Homo sapiens: one gene and its partners. The protein of the gene in region 1 purifies or fractionates together with the protein of each later gene. This does not show direct contact. Each region holds a gene or a part of one and is shown in the gene's direction. Other genes may lie near its edges.

The links. Proteins that work in one complex are often made in the same cells at the same time.
Region 2: the proteins of FAM118B (region 1) and CCDC102A purify together in Homo sapiens (affinity purification with mass spectrometry; one large-scale study listed by BioGRID and IntAct). This does not show direct contact.
Region 3: the proteins of FAM118B (region 1) and DCPH1 purify together in Homo sapiens (affinity purification with mass spectrometry; one large-scale study listed by BioGRID and IntAct). This does not show direct contact.
Region 4: the proteins of FAM118B (region 1) and CYRIB purify together in Homo sapiens (affinity purification with mass spectrometry; one large-scale study listed by BioGRID and IntAct). This does not show direct contact.

The regions. Positions count from the first base shown.
Region 1 is NC_000011.10:126,214,782-126,218,281, forward strand, and holds part of FAM118B (protein FAM118B), read left to right. Parts: intron 1-3,500. UniProt on the Homo sapiens protein: May play a role in Cajal bodies formation.
Region 2 is NC_000016.10:57,526,572-57,530,071, reverse strand, and holds part of CCDC102A (coiled-coil domain-containing protein 102A), read left to right. Parts: intron 1-652; coding exon of another isoform or gene 653-806; 5' UTR 807-894; coding exon 895-1,479; intron 1,480-3,500. Other genes in the region: ADGRG5 (adhesion G-protein coupled receptor G5), read right to left, coding at 653-806.
Region 3 is NC_000006.12:151,462,466-151,465,965, forward strand, and holds part of DCPH1 (damage-control phosphatase ARMT1), read left to right. Parts: intron 1-1,987; coding exon 1,988-2,153; intron 2,154-3,500. UniProt on the Homo sapiens protein: Metal-dependent phosphatase that shows phosphatase activity against several substrates, including fructose-1-phosphate and fructose-6-phosphate.
Region 4 is NC_000008.11:129,845,561-129,849,060, reverse strand, and holds part of CYRIB (CYFIP-related Rac1 interactor B), read left to right. Parts: intron 1-2,186; coding exon 2,187-2,257; intron 2,258-3,500. UniProt on the Homo sapiens protein: Negatively regulates RAC1 signaling and RAC1-driven cytoskeletal remodeling. Regulates chemotaxis, cell migration and epithelial polarization by controlling the polarity, plasticity, duration and extent of protrusions.

The DNA.
Region 1 (3,500 bases):
AACTTGATAGTTTCTTTTTAAAGATATTTCCTAGTCTATTCAGGAACAAAAAGGCTGCATTAGTATTTCGCAAATATAAACAAACAAGGACTAACTAATAAAGGAACTTGCGTTTATCACAAATTTAAGGTTAATTAGTGGTATAAAGTTAAGTTACGCCTCCTCAAACTGTGATTTGCTAGTTGCAGATTAACCAGCGATTCCATTTCCTTGAAGAGCAGGAAGTACTTGGACATTGTTTTATGGTTTTAGAGAGATTAAAGGAGGCAATTAGCAGGAACTCTTGGGAGGTGCCCTGGAAAGTACAGTCATTGGGAGCCAGGAGATGTGGGACTAGTTCCAGTTCAGCCGCTGCGTACTTGAACAAATAATTTGGGCTTCAGTTTTTTGTCATTTGAAAGATTTTTGCAACTCTGTTTCTAGTCTATGAAGATTTTCCACTGATACTGAAATACTTCTCTTTCAGCCCGAATTAGTGGGATTTATTTCAGATTTATCTTGAATACATTTAGCATTGATACTAAGAAACTGGATTCTGCTCTTGTCCCCAGAATTTAACTTTTTGCCACTGAGCTAATGTTTATGTTTGGAGGTTACTTCATTGAGTGGTGTTGGAATATACTTTTAAGATTTCTGGCCAGGCGCGGTGGCTTACGCCTGTAACCCTAGCACTTTGGGAGGCCGAGGTGGGCGGATCACGAGATCAGGAGATGGAGAGCATCCTGGCTAACACGGTGAAACCCTGTCTCTACTAAAAATACAAAAATTAGCTGGGCGTGGTGGCAGGCACCTGTAGTCCCAGCTACTCGGGAGGCTGAGGCAGGAGAGTGGCGTGAACCCAGGAGGCAGAGCTTGCAGTGAGCCAAGATCGCGCCACTGCATTCCAGCCTGGGTGAAAGTATGAGACTCCGTCTCAAAAAAAAAAAAAAAAAAAATGTCCTAAATGGGGGTGGGGTGCATGGCTCACACCTTAATCCCAGCACTTTGGGAGGCCTAGCGGGGAGGATCTTTTGAGCCTAGGAGTTTGAGATCGCCTGGGCAACATAGCAAGACCTCGTCTCTACAGAAAATCACAAAATTAGCTGGGCATGGTGACGCACCTATGGTCCTAACTAACCCTTGAGGCTGAGGTGGGAGGATCATTTGAGCCCGGGAATTCAAGGCTGCAGCTGCAGTGAACCATGATTGCAGTACTGCACTCCAGCCTGGGTGACAGAGACAGACCCATCTCAAAAAAGAAAAAGTAATTTGTGTAATACAGTTTAAAAGTCAAATAGTAATAAAAGATTTGGAATTAAAAAACAGTTTCTCAGGCCAGGTCCAGTGGCTCATACCTGTAATCCCAGCACTTTGGGAGGCTGAGGCAGGTGGATTGCCTGAGGTCAGGAGTTCAAGACCAGCCTGGCCAACATGGTGAAACCCAATCTCTACTAAAAATACTAAAATTAGCTGAGCATGGTGGTGTGTGCCTGTAATCCCAGCTACTTGGGAGGCTGAGGTAGGAGAATCGCTGGAACTGGAGAGATGGAGGTTGCGGTGAGTCGAGGTCGCACCATTGCACTCCAGCCTAGGTGACAGAGCGAGACTCTGTCACCAAAAAAAAACCCAACAAAACAAAAACCGTTTCTCTGCCCTCCCTACCTCAAAGTCCCATTCTTTAGAGGCAACCACTCAGTTGTTTTCCTCTTTTCCTCTGTCTTTACAGTAAGTGGTCAACACCATCAGTATTCTTGAAACATGATATAACAAAACCAGTTTTACCATATGGTTTCTATGGCGTTTTTCTGGTCACAAAAACATACCCAATTTCTAAATAAAGACCCAAACATTTCTAATATGAAACACTGAAACAAGTAAGATTTTCACCCACTTTTTGGTGAGTCAGTGAGTTACTGCAGTCATAGTGGTGGTGGGTTAAATCAAGGAATAAATGTGTGCAAAGTGAAAATTGTCAGAAGCATTTCCTACCACCATACTCATTTCCAAAGCAATCAATCACCAATAGGGCAGGCTCACTGAGAGCTATTGTACCACATCATTTATTGTTGTGCATTTGGATGATTACCATAGACTTTGCAGATTTTTATTTGCTGGTAATTTGTATTCATTCATTTATTTTCCAGCTTAGGCTCACAGGTGGCTGGAGCCTATGCTGGCAGCTCAGGGCACAAGGCAGGCGCCAGCCCTGGACAGGACGCTGTCTATGCCATAGGGTGTGCATGCACACACACACAAACACAGGGACCATCTAGACACACCAGCTAACCTAGCAGGCACATCTTTGAGACGTGGGAGGAAAGCAGAATACCTGGAGAAAACCCACACAGACATGGGGAGCATGCCAACTCCACACAAACGGGTAGCCTCAGCCAGGAATCACTTATTCTCTCATCAATGTTATGAAAAAACGATGTTGAACAAAAAGACTTTTTTTGAGAGTCTGCTGTATCTTCTTGTTGCTAAATAGTTGGTTTGTTATTCTTTCTTGGTTTTCCCCTCATGTTTGGCCTGTTGATTTCTTGTTGTGATAGATTTGTATTTAGCTCTTGCATCCCACCACTTTCCTATTTTTCCATGCCCTCTATCCCCTAATATAGTTCTATTGTAATTTTTTGCTAAAACAGGTAGCTTTTATGTACTTACACCTCTGTCAAATACTGTTCACTGTTGAGCTGGATGATCTATTACAGTGTGTTCCTCCTGGTGTGTAGGTTGGCCTTCACCTGTGTTTTTCATGTACCTACTGTTAATTTTTTTCCCACATGCTCCAATGTATTTGTCACATTCTTATCAGTAACATTTTCTGTGAGCTCAAATGTATCACCTGTTTATTGGAGCCCTGCCCCCTCCTCCTGCCTTTACTGTTGCTCTCAAGAACTGCTGCCTGGGGTCCTCCTGGACCTGCCCTTTCCTGTGCAGGAACCGTATCTTCCTCTTTCTGGGCTTATGTCTTTATTTTTTAAAAGCATATACTTCAGTTATTTCTAAGAAGTATTTGAATGACCTGGTTTTGCCCACACACTTGTTTGATAGTTTGGCAGTTATATAATTCTAGATTGGAAATAAGGTTCTCTCAGAATGTTGAAGGCATCTGTAATTGCTCTAGAGATGTGGTGATTTAAATCCTTCTTACGTGACCGTATTTTGTTTGTTTTCTCCCCTTCTGGAAGCTTTGAGGATATTCTCTATCTCTGGTGTTCTGCAGTTTTATGATGTGTATTAACACCAGGGTATGGGTCTTTTACTCAGCTGTTGTGCTGGCTTCTCACAGACGGTTTTGATTCTGGAAATTCACGTCCTCTAGTTCCGGGATGTTTTCTTGTACTATTTCTGTGATTTTTTGCTCAATCTTTAATTTTTCTTTGATACCTTTTTGTAATATCCATTCTTGTTATGTGGATATGGTGGGCTCAGAGGGCCCGCTGGAGTATTTGAGTTTTCTTCCTCTCTGCACAGGCTCCACTTCCTTCAGGTGATGTGGGCCTTTGCACCTGTGCCTC
Region 2 (3,500 bases), on another chromosome or scaffold:
AGCAAATCCTTACTAGAGTTTGAATTTGTACTCATAGATACCATAAATGGAGGTAATCATTTTCTTCACCTCCACTCTTTAAGGAATAAATGAGATCGTTCACCTAAAGCCCTGGGCACAGTGCCTGGCTTGTGGCCTGCCCTCCACAAATATCATTGTCATCATGTGTTGGGACTAAAACAGTGGTCAGGACCCAGTCCTGGACCACAGCAAACTCACAGCCTTGGTTAAAGGTACACAGCAGACACATAAATGACAGGGTAAGTTAGTGCAGTGATGGAGACACATAAGGGGCTGATGGACCTGGCCTGAAGTGCTCCAGGAGGGCTTCCAGGAGGAAGTGATACCTCAGAAGAGTCTTAAATATGAGAAGAGTTAGCCCAGTGCAGGAAAAGGCAGGGAGGGGACTCCTGGCACCAGCCCAGTGCCCCCGCCTGGGTCCTGTGCGGAAGTTGCATAGTAGTATAGTATAAGCCATCAGTGTGTGAGCCGGGACCGGGAGAATAAAGAACAGATCAAGGTTTCAGATTAGCGCCGCTGGGTGAAGGGATTGGAGCAGGGAGTCGAGGCCACTGAGGAGGCCTTTGCGGGCCCTTGCTCCACCAATCCTGCCTCATTGGGACTCTCCTGGAACAGAACTCTCTCCTCCTACCTTGGCCGTTCTGTTCCCTCCGCCAGGGCCTTGGCGCGGCTGATCTTCGAGACTGACGGTGGTCGCAGTCCAATAACGGTTGTGTTCTCCCGTAGGTCCGAGGAGGCGTCCTCCGCCCGGTGGCCCAGAGGGAAGCGGGGCACGGCGTCATCATGCACAGTTGTATCGCGCCCGCCGCGCGTCCCCGGAGCCGCCCCTGAGCCCGACCGCGAGTTCGAGCTCAGGGCCCGCCCGGCCGCACCATGAGCCACGGGCCCAGCCCCCGGCTGGCCGAGTCCCCGCAGCTGTCCAAGGGCAGCCTCCTGACCATCCTGGGCAGCCCGTCGCCGGAGCGCATGGGGCCTGCCGACTCCTTGCCGCCCACGCCGCCCAGCGGCACGCCCTCGCCCGGGCCGCCGCCCGCACTGCCCCTGCCCCCCGCGCCCGCGCTGCTGGCCGACGGCGACTGGGAGAGCCGCGAGGAGCTGCGGCTGCGGGAGCTGGAGGAGGCGCGGGCGCGGGCGGCGCAGATGGAGAAGACCATGCGCCGGTGGTCGGACTGCACTGCCAATTGGCGCGAGAAATGGAGCAAGGTGCGCGCTGAGCGCAACCGCGCGCGCGAGGAGGTGCGCCAGCTGCGCCAGCGCCTGGACGCGCTCACCAAGGAGCTGGCGGGCGCACGGCGCGAGCGCCAAGAGGCGCAGGGCGAGTGCGAGGCACGGGGCCGCGAGCTGGCGCGGCTGAGGGGCGCCCGGGGGGTCGCCGACCAGACGCGCGACGGCCCCGAGCCGGAAGCGGAGCGCGAGCCAGTGCGTGACGTCGGGTCCGAGAGGCCGCCAGGCAGCCAGGTGCGCGGCGCGGGCGGGGCGTTCGCGCTCCAGTCTCGAAGTGGGCGGGGCCGATTGTCCTGAGCTGCTGGGCTCAGAAACAAGCTAGTAAAGGCCTGGCCTCCTGGAGGTTTCACTTCTCCAGGTCGGGTTCTACCCTTGCGGGGCCTCACATCATTTTCCTTCCAGAGACCTCAGGGTGGAGAATCCCAAGTTCTGTGATCCCTCCACTCCCACACCTGAGAAGTCAACAGAACCAAGGAATCATCCCCTTTGAGCCAGGAGAGGGATCCAGCAACTTGCCTAGAAGTTAGCTGATTCGTAGCAGAGCCGAATCCATTGATTCAATCAGAGCTGAGCGGTGGGAGAAATCAGGGCACTGGGATCACAGAGGAGGTCCCTGACGCAGGCTTCACAGAAGCTTTCCTGGAAGAGGTCACATTTAAGCTGAGACTAGAATGATGAGTAGGAATTAGCTGTGAAAAGTGCCAGGAGGGCAGGACGACGTGGCTCGTACCTGGAGTACCAGCTACTTGGGAGGCTGTGGCTGCGGCAGCAGGATCCCTTGAGCCCAGGAAGTCGAGGTTGCAGTGAAATATGACTATACTGCTGCACTCCAGCCTGGGCAACAACTCCACCTCTAAAAAATAAAAATTAAGAAAAAAAGTGCCCGAAGGCATTCCAGCTGATAGAAACTGCCTGTGCAAAAAGTCTAGAGGCCGAGAGGGCCTGGTGAGTTTGGAAAAAGGCAGTAATAGCAACGGCCGTCATTCACTGGGCGCCCACGCAGCACTTAGCCGAGCATGTGCGTTATCTAGGTAACCCCCACAGCAACCCTCTAAGATATTTGCTCCATGGGGAGGATCCTGAGGCACAGAGAGATTCAGAAGTAAGGGCTGGGCGTGGTGGTTCACGCCTGTAATCCCAGCACTTTGGGAGGCCAAAGCTGGTGGATCACCTGAGGTTAAGAGTTCAAGACCAGCCTGGCCAACATGGTGAAACCCCATCTCTACTAAAAGTACAAAAATTAGTCGGGCATGCTGGTGGGCGCCTGTAATACCAGCTACTCGGAAGGCTGAGGCAGGAGAATTGCTTTAACCCGAGAGGTGGAGATTGCAGTGAGCCGAGATCACACCATTGCACTCCAGCCTGGGCAACGAGAGTGAATCTCCATCTCAAAAAAAAAAAAAAAAAAGCAGCAGCAATGTCTGCCAGCCGGTGACAACTTGCTGGGGTTTGAACCTGGACAATCTGGCTCCAGAGTCCAGGGTAATAATCAGGATGGCTGCTGCATTAACAGTGGGTGCAGAGGGCACCCTCTCCTGAGCCAGCAGGCCTGTTACCAGAAAGCCACCTAGGGGCAGGGTCCAAGCTCAGTTCCCCAGCTCTGTCCCCAGCTCAGTCCCTGGACAGGCCAACTCCTCCAAATAAGACTGCCCCTCCTCTATTCTGCCCAGCCCCCTCCATCCCGTAGGCTAGCGTGGGCACTGCTGCCTCCTGTGGCTGAAGTCCCCTCTTCCCTGGGGTGACCTGGTGTTTGGAGGTGGTGTTCACTGCGCACAATGCTGTTCCTGTCCTATCCTTATTCCAGTTGTCGGTCACAGGCCAGAGGGCTGTGGGCAGTGGCAGGAGCCCTAGGCTTGCAGTCTGAGTTTGTTCTCCAGCCCAGCCTTTTCATGCTGTGGCCCAGAACAAGTCCTCTCTCTCCCTGTTCCCCATTCGTAAAATGGGGCTTTGGACACCTCCACCTGAATAATCTGAGAAACAGAAGAGTAGCTCTCACTCCTCAGGGAGTCCTCAGGGCCACCGCTCCAGTCCAGCTAGGGAAACTGAGGGCCGGGCCAGGAAGAGGCTGGTCCAGACTCATCTGGAAAGGCTGTGGGAGAAGCTGGAACAGGGGCTGTGGTCCTTGTGGGTTTGTGTCAGAGACAGGCCTTGGAGATGGGCGGGGCGGAGAAGAAGGGCAGGATGGCAAGAAGGAAAGGGGCTCGGCCCTGGGTTCCTAATTTCTCAACTGCTTCCTGTCTGGGAGCTGGCTCTCC
Region 3 (3,500 bases), on another chromosome or scaffold:
TTTTTATGTTTGTGAGACTCATCCATATGTTACAATATAATTATAGATCATTCATTCTCATTGCTTTATAATATTGCATTTTATGAGCATATTACAATCTGTTTACTTCGTTGTGATGGATATTTGAGTACTTTTCAGTTTGGAGTTGTTAGGAAGAATGCTGCTATAAACATTCTGACACTTTTTTGCTGAACATATGTATGAATACATCTGTTGGATATATCCCTCCCTAGAAGTGAATCACTGGGTCATAGTGTGTGTACATACACAGCTTTAGTAGATTCTAAAATAGAAAACATTCTAAAATGAGAATTTATATATAGTTATGTGAGTTTACTCTCTTAAATACGAAAATAAGGCTCATTCTTAATATGAGATGTGACTTTAATGAATGGTTTGTTAATAAAACATTAGAACATGTTTTATTAGAACTTTCTGTAAAGGGCCAGGTAGTAAATCTTTTAGGCATAGGGGCCATGTGGTCTCTGTTGCAGCTGCCGAACCTGCCATTGTCGTGTGAATGCAACCTTAAATAATATGTAAGAATGAGCATGGCTGTGTTCTAAAGAAACTTTATTCAGCGGACACCGAAATTTGAATTTCATGTGTTACAAAATACTACTTTTCTTTCACTTTGTTTTCAGCCATTCAAAAATATAAAAACCACTCTTAGCATGTGAGTCAGACAGAACAGGTGGTGGGCCGGATTGGGTCTGTGCATCCGAATGATTTTTATCCTTTTAAGTCACCTTGAGAGACTGACTGATTTCAGCGGTGCTGCCATTGCTAAAACCATCTTTGAATTATTTGGAACTTCTTTCAGAGCCAGTTTACATGCCTCAAAATGAAAATTAGTCTTCCTGTATTTTTACTCATTTTTGATTAAAAAAAAAGTTTTTATCCAATTTGATCACACACCTCATTCTACTGAAATCACTCCGAGTGACTTTTGGCTGTTTCCAAAAATAAATTGACTCCAAAGGATGAAGATATGTGATCACTGACAGGAGGTTTAATGATGTGCCATAGGTTCTGAAGAAAATTCCTAAAGAGGAATTCCAAAAGTGCTCTGAGCAATGGCAGCGCCCTTGGAATAAGGGTGTAGCTTCCCGAGGTGACTGACTGGCTGGAAGGAGGCAGCCATCATTTGGATGTTTAAATACTGGTATGTTATTTAAAAAAACAAAACAAAACAAATCAAGCCGATTACATCAGTGTTAGATTGTTTTTACCCTAACATGAATGACCCATGGAAAAAGTAGCTAATTTGGAAGACCCAATAATCTGAATGTCTTTTATATTCAATTCAGTAAAGATTATTATATTAGTATTTATATCTCCTTAGTTATGATTTTCTTAGGCCAATATAATATGATTTAATCTCTCACTGGAAAACATGAAGGTGTAGCCATGCCACATATATCACCTTTGGTTAAAGTTGCCCAAAAATACCTAAAATTAGTGATAAAAAATTATCATTCTTCTAAAACTTACAATAGTATTGTCTGATTTATCTTAAGTACTCATTGTATTTCCATCATACTCTGTGTTTCATTCTGTTAATGATTGCTGCATTGTATTCAAATATTCTGTTTATATTCTATACATTTGTTACTGGAACTCTGCCACATCGGTGGTTAAAAAATGTTTGTTGAACTAAAGCAGTTGTCTTGAAATTTATCTTTCTCCTTCTTGTGCCCTGGAATCCCTGCTAGGTAGATAATTATGAGCATAGTCACTATCACTATTTAATATGTCCAGAAAAATACTTGATTTGGGAACTTTTTTGACAATTAAAATGAGTTTGAGAGATTTTTGTGTAATTTGATTATTTAGTATTAAGTTTTTCTAGTTAATTAGATAAATGTTATATCTAGTTTCTGTTAGCACTGATTATTGAGACTGTATGGTGCTATTTTCTTTCAAGAACTGCAGTTATCCAAATGTACAAACTAAAATGTTTCACTTTGTTTTTCTCCTACTTTAGTCCACCAATCGATTACTTTGATGTATTTAAAGAATCAAAAGAGCAAAATTTCTATGGGTCACAGGAATCCATCATTGCTTTATGTACTCACCTGCAACAATTGATAAGAACTATTGAAGACCTAGATGAAAATCAGCTGAAAGATGAGTTTTTTAAACTTCTGCAGGTAAATGTGATCATTAATCTTCTGAGTATGTTTTATTTAAACAGAAAATAAACTGCTATACAGTTAACAAAACATGTAAATATTTTTCTTTGCTATAATTGATGATTTTTTATCTAGTGGTGTTAAAAGATGAAAATCCATTTAATTGCTAGAAATGGGTTTGAAATATTTTTCTGCTCTCACTGGCTATGATTTTAGTGGCAAAGAAGTTATCTGACTTCCTAGCTTCTGTCATACTTGAGAGAATACTTCATAGTAATTTGCTTAGCTTTTGTCATGCTTGAAAGAATTCTTAATAGTAATTTGGTCTCCCAGCTGACTTGGGTGTGTGTTGGCTCTGTGGCTAATTTGTGTTTGGACCTGAGGCCTGTCACTTAATTTCTCTGGGCCTCAGTTTCCTCCTCTGTTCAGTGAGGATAATGTGTACTGTGTAATTTGATGTGAGAATTCAACTAGATGCTTGCATGTGAAGTGCTGAGCACAGAGCCTGGGATACAGCCTGCTGTTAGCATCGGTAGGTGATAATACTCGGGTATTCAGTTGGCCCATTAATACAGTTTCATTACATTTCTTTATCTTGTATTCAGTTTAGTTTTTAATTCATGCAAACATCCTGAAATTTACAACACATTATTAGAATCAGAACTATTAGGAGACGTGGTACACAGCAGTATCCCCAGCCCTCACATTTTCCAGAAAAAGTGAGGAAGACTTTCAAAAAGAAATGTTAGAAAGTGCTATGAAGAGAAATAAAGCAGGAAAAGGGCGTTGGGAATGTTGGAGAAGGGATCAGGGCTGCCAGGGAAGGGTCCATGGAGGCTGAGGCCACAGACCTGAAGGCAGGGAAGGAGTAAGTCAGGTGTATGTCTGCGGAGTACATGGAGAGGTGAGAAAAATTGCAAGGAAACCCTGTAGTTACTGAGAGGTAGCGGGGTGGAAGGGACACAGAACGGCTTGTATTAAATAAATTTTTACTAAAAGTGAAACAGAAGCCATCAGAGGGTTTTGAACAGAGAGGTAATGCTATTTGACTATTTCAAGGAATGTTTCTGAGAATAGACTGCAGGGGCTGAAGGTGGAAATGGGGAGAGCTGGTCTGAAAATGACTTGGGGAGGGAGGTTGGGGCCAAGTTGGTAGCATAAGAGTTAGTGACATCACCAGAGCCTGGGTGTTCTTTGAACATAGAAGCTACAGAACTTGCTAACAGATTATACCTGGAGACGAAGCCCTGGTGAGACCCCGAGGGCAAGCAAAGTCACAAATAAAGGCATATTTTGAGTTCAAAACAAAAATTGTCAGGACATTGTTTTGTTTTTTGAGACAGAGTCTCGCTCTGTTGCCCAGGT
Region 4 (3,500 bases), on another chromosome or scaffold:
GAATAGAATGATCAAAGGATGACTATATTGTCTAGTGAGTACCTCCTGGAAGGCTTCTACTACGTATTTGGCAATATAAATAGATAATTAGATATAAGGAATTTTGAGTCATATCCTTTAATTCCTTTGGCCAAAGGCCATTTCAAATAAAATGTTTATTTCAGAATGCATATAAAAAGTCAGTAGTGCTGCTGGGCGTGCTGGCTCATGCCTGTAGCCCAAGCACTTTGGCAGGCTGAAGCAGGAGGATCACTTGAGCCCAGGAGTAGAAGACCAGCCTGGGCAGCATAGTGAGACCCCCATTTCTACAAAAAAAAAAAAAAAATTAGCCAGGTGTGGTGGCACACATCGGTAGTCACAGCTACGTTGAGAGGCTGAAGTGGGAGGATCCCTTGAGCCCAGGAGTTCCAGCCTGCAGTGAGCCACGATCACACCACTGCATTCAGTCTGGGTGAGAGAGAGACCCTGTCTTGAAATTAAAAAGACAGCCAGTAGGATGCTCCAGTGGAAAAAGATGAAGACTTTATGTATTTTCCCTCCCCTACCTAGTCATAATAATTTGTGACTATAGTTGGCTCTCGACTTTTCTTCTCTCTGTAAAAGTTTGTATTAGAAATAGTTTTCTAATTTCTCTACTTCGTAGTTTCTTTCCCCAACCTCTCACATCTAGTTCATTAGTGTTTGGTGAGAATTGTCTTCCCGTTTCCCTTTCATAGCTAGTTTAGGCTCTTAGCATTTCGGATCTCGATTACTGATTACTAGCCAAGCTTGTTGCCTTCATGTACACCTGTCATATGTAAAGAGAAATGAGTTAATATTTACTGTATGGTTGCCATGTCCCAGGAATTTTACGTTTGTTCTCCCTTGTGACTCTGAAAATACTCTTTTAGGTGTCATCTCCCTTTACTGACAGGGCAACTAAAGTTTAGCAGATCAAGTAATAGAATTGCTAGTAGGCCGGGTGCAGTGGTTTATGCCTGTAATCCCAGCACTTTGGCAGGCCGAGGCAGGCGGATCACCTAAGGTTAGGAGTTCAAGACCAGCCTGGCCAACATGGTGAAACCTCATCTCTACTGAAAAAAAATACAAAAATTAGCTGGGTGTGGTGGCACACATCTGTAGTCCCAGCTACTCGGGAGGCTGAGGTGGGAGAATCGCTTAAATCCAGGAGGCAGAGGTTGCAGTGAACCAAGATTGCGCCACTACACTCCAGCCTGGGTGACAGAGCGAGACTCCATCTCAAAAATAAAAAGAGTTGCTAGAAAAGGTAGAACCCACATTTCTCTGGCTTCCAAAGCCTGTGTTCTTTCTGCTGTATTATGCTTTTTTATAACAACCAGGCTAATATATCTTAAATACCATCGTCATCAAGTGGTTACCTTTTAAAATAACCTGTGAGTCCCCTGCTGCCAGGCATAACACTTCGTATAACTCATCCTGGCTTTCAGCCTCTCATAACTCCAGGTGCAGTGCTGAAAAATTCCTATCTGTCCTCTGTGTGATACTTTACTCTGTGAGGTTTCTCTACCTGAAAGTTCTTCTTTTCCTTAGTAACATACTCATTCTGTCCTTTATTTTTTATTTTATTTTATTTTTTGTGACGGAGTCTCGCTCTGTCACCCAGGCTGGAGTGCAGTAGTGCGATCTCGGCTCACTGCAAGCTCTGCCTCCTGGGTTCACGCCATTCTCCTGCCTCAGCCTCCCGAGTAGCTGGGACTACAGGCGCCCACCACCACGCCTGGCTAATTTTTTTGTATTTTTAGTAGAGACGGGGTTTTACCGTGTTAGGCAGGATGGTCTCGAACTCCTGACCTTGTGATCCGCCCGCCTCAGCCTCCCAAAGTGTTGGAATTACAGGCCTGAGCCACCCTGCCCAGCCCATTCTGTCCTTTAAATCGCCACTCAGCACCTTTTCCAGAAGTCTTCCCTTAGCAAACCGTTTGTTTTTCATTGCATGTGTGGTATATTAGTTTGACTGATTTTGTTCTCAAAAAGATTTTGTTTTCACTAAGTGAGAATAATAACTCTTAGGTTGGGTTTTTTTCTGTTCTAAGAATAATTAATTTGACATAGTATGTAATCTCTTGAGTTCCATAGTTATGGTCTTGATTTATTTTACTATTTTGAAAAGGAATGTTACATGAAAAAAATGGCTGTTTTACCTTTTCTGTTTTCTTTTTCTTTAGATGAAAGGTTGTATCAAAGTTCTTAAGGACCAACCTCCTAATAGTGTGGAAGGTCTTCTAAATGCTCTCAGGTGTGTATATGTACGTGTACGTATGTACAGAAAAAATCTGTAAGGAAAATGGTCGATGTTTATGTAAAGAAAATGCATTAAGTGTGAATAGGATATAAAAATAAGTGTTCAAGCTAGAAATATGAAGATCTTATTTTGTTTATTGATAATCTTGCTTCCAAACACTGGTTACGGTATTTTATGATGAGGAATGTGTGGGACACATGACAATAGCAGCTTCATTTTCTGGTTGAAGATTTTGGCTTTTACTTGTTGCTTCTCTTCAAACAGAGATTGCTTGTTTTTGTAATAAAAGTATTATATACCAGTTATAAATAAAATTCAGAAAACATAAGAAAATGTAAATAAAAAGAAATAATGTAATCTCACCATTTTGAGATAAGCCACTATTAGCATATAGCCTTCCAGAGTTTTTTCTTTACATATATAGATAATAGCTCTATGTAGTAGTTATCTTTTTACAAAATAATATCTTACAAAGTGGCTTGTAACTAGCTCTTTCCTCTTAATAGAATGTAATTACATTTGTGCTCAGACTTGTGTTCTGTTATTTTTATGTATTTCCTACAATAAAAATTAAGTAGTCATTATTTAATGTCTTTTCTTAGATTAGTTTTACTTAATTTAGTTGCTCAAACTTCTACAAATGCTAGAACATTATTTCGTTATTTAGAGTTGGAATCTCGCTCTGTCACCCAGGCTAGAGTACAGTGGCACAATCTTGGCTTATTGGAACCTCGGCCTCCCAGGTTCAAGTGCTTCTCCTGCCTCAGCCTCCCGAGTAGCTGGGATCACAGGCATGTGCCTGTATTTTGTATTTTTAGTAAAGACAGCGTTTCACCATGTTGGCCAGGCTGGTCTCAAACTCCTGACCTCAAGTGATCCACCCACCTTGGCCTCCCAGAGTGCTGAGATTACAGCATGAGCCACTGTGCCCAGCTGCTAGAACATTTTTAAATGAAAATCTCGATACTTTATAACATTTGACTACAGAGATTTAATTGGTAGTATTCACATGACATAAAAGATGATGTCCCATTACTTGATTTTTTGAGGGTTTAAACACAAAAATTACATGAACACAGAAATATTTATATAATGATATTTACCACATAAAATGTAGGCTGTATCATTTCAGCTAAGCGGAACTGTCAAATGATTTTATTAAGATTATGAAAAAATGTTTAAAAATAGTTTTTAAAAGATTATGAAAAGTGTTGCATAAGCGGTAGCTGCCTGAATA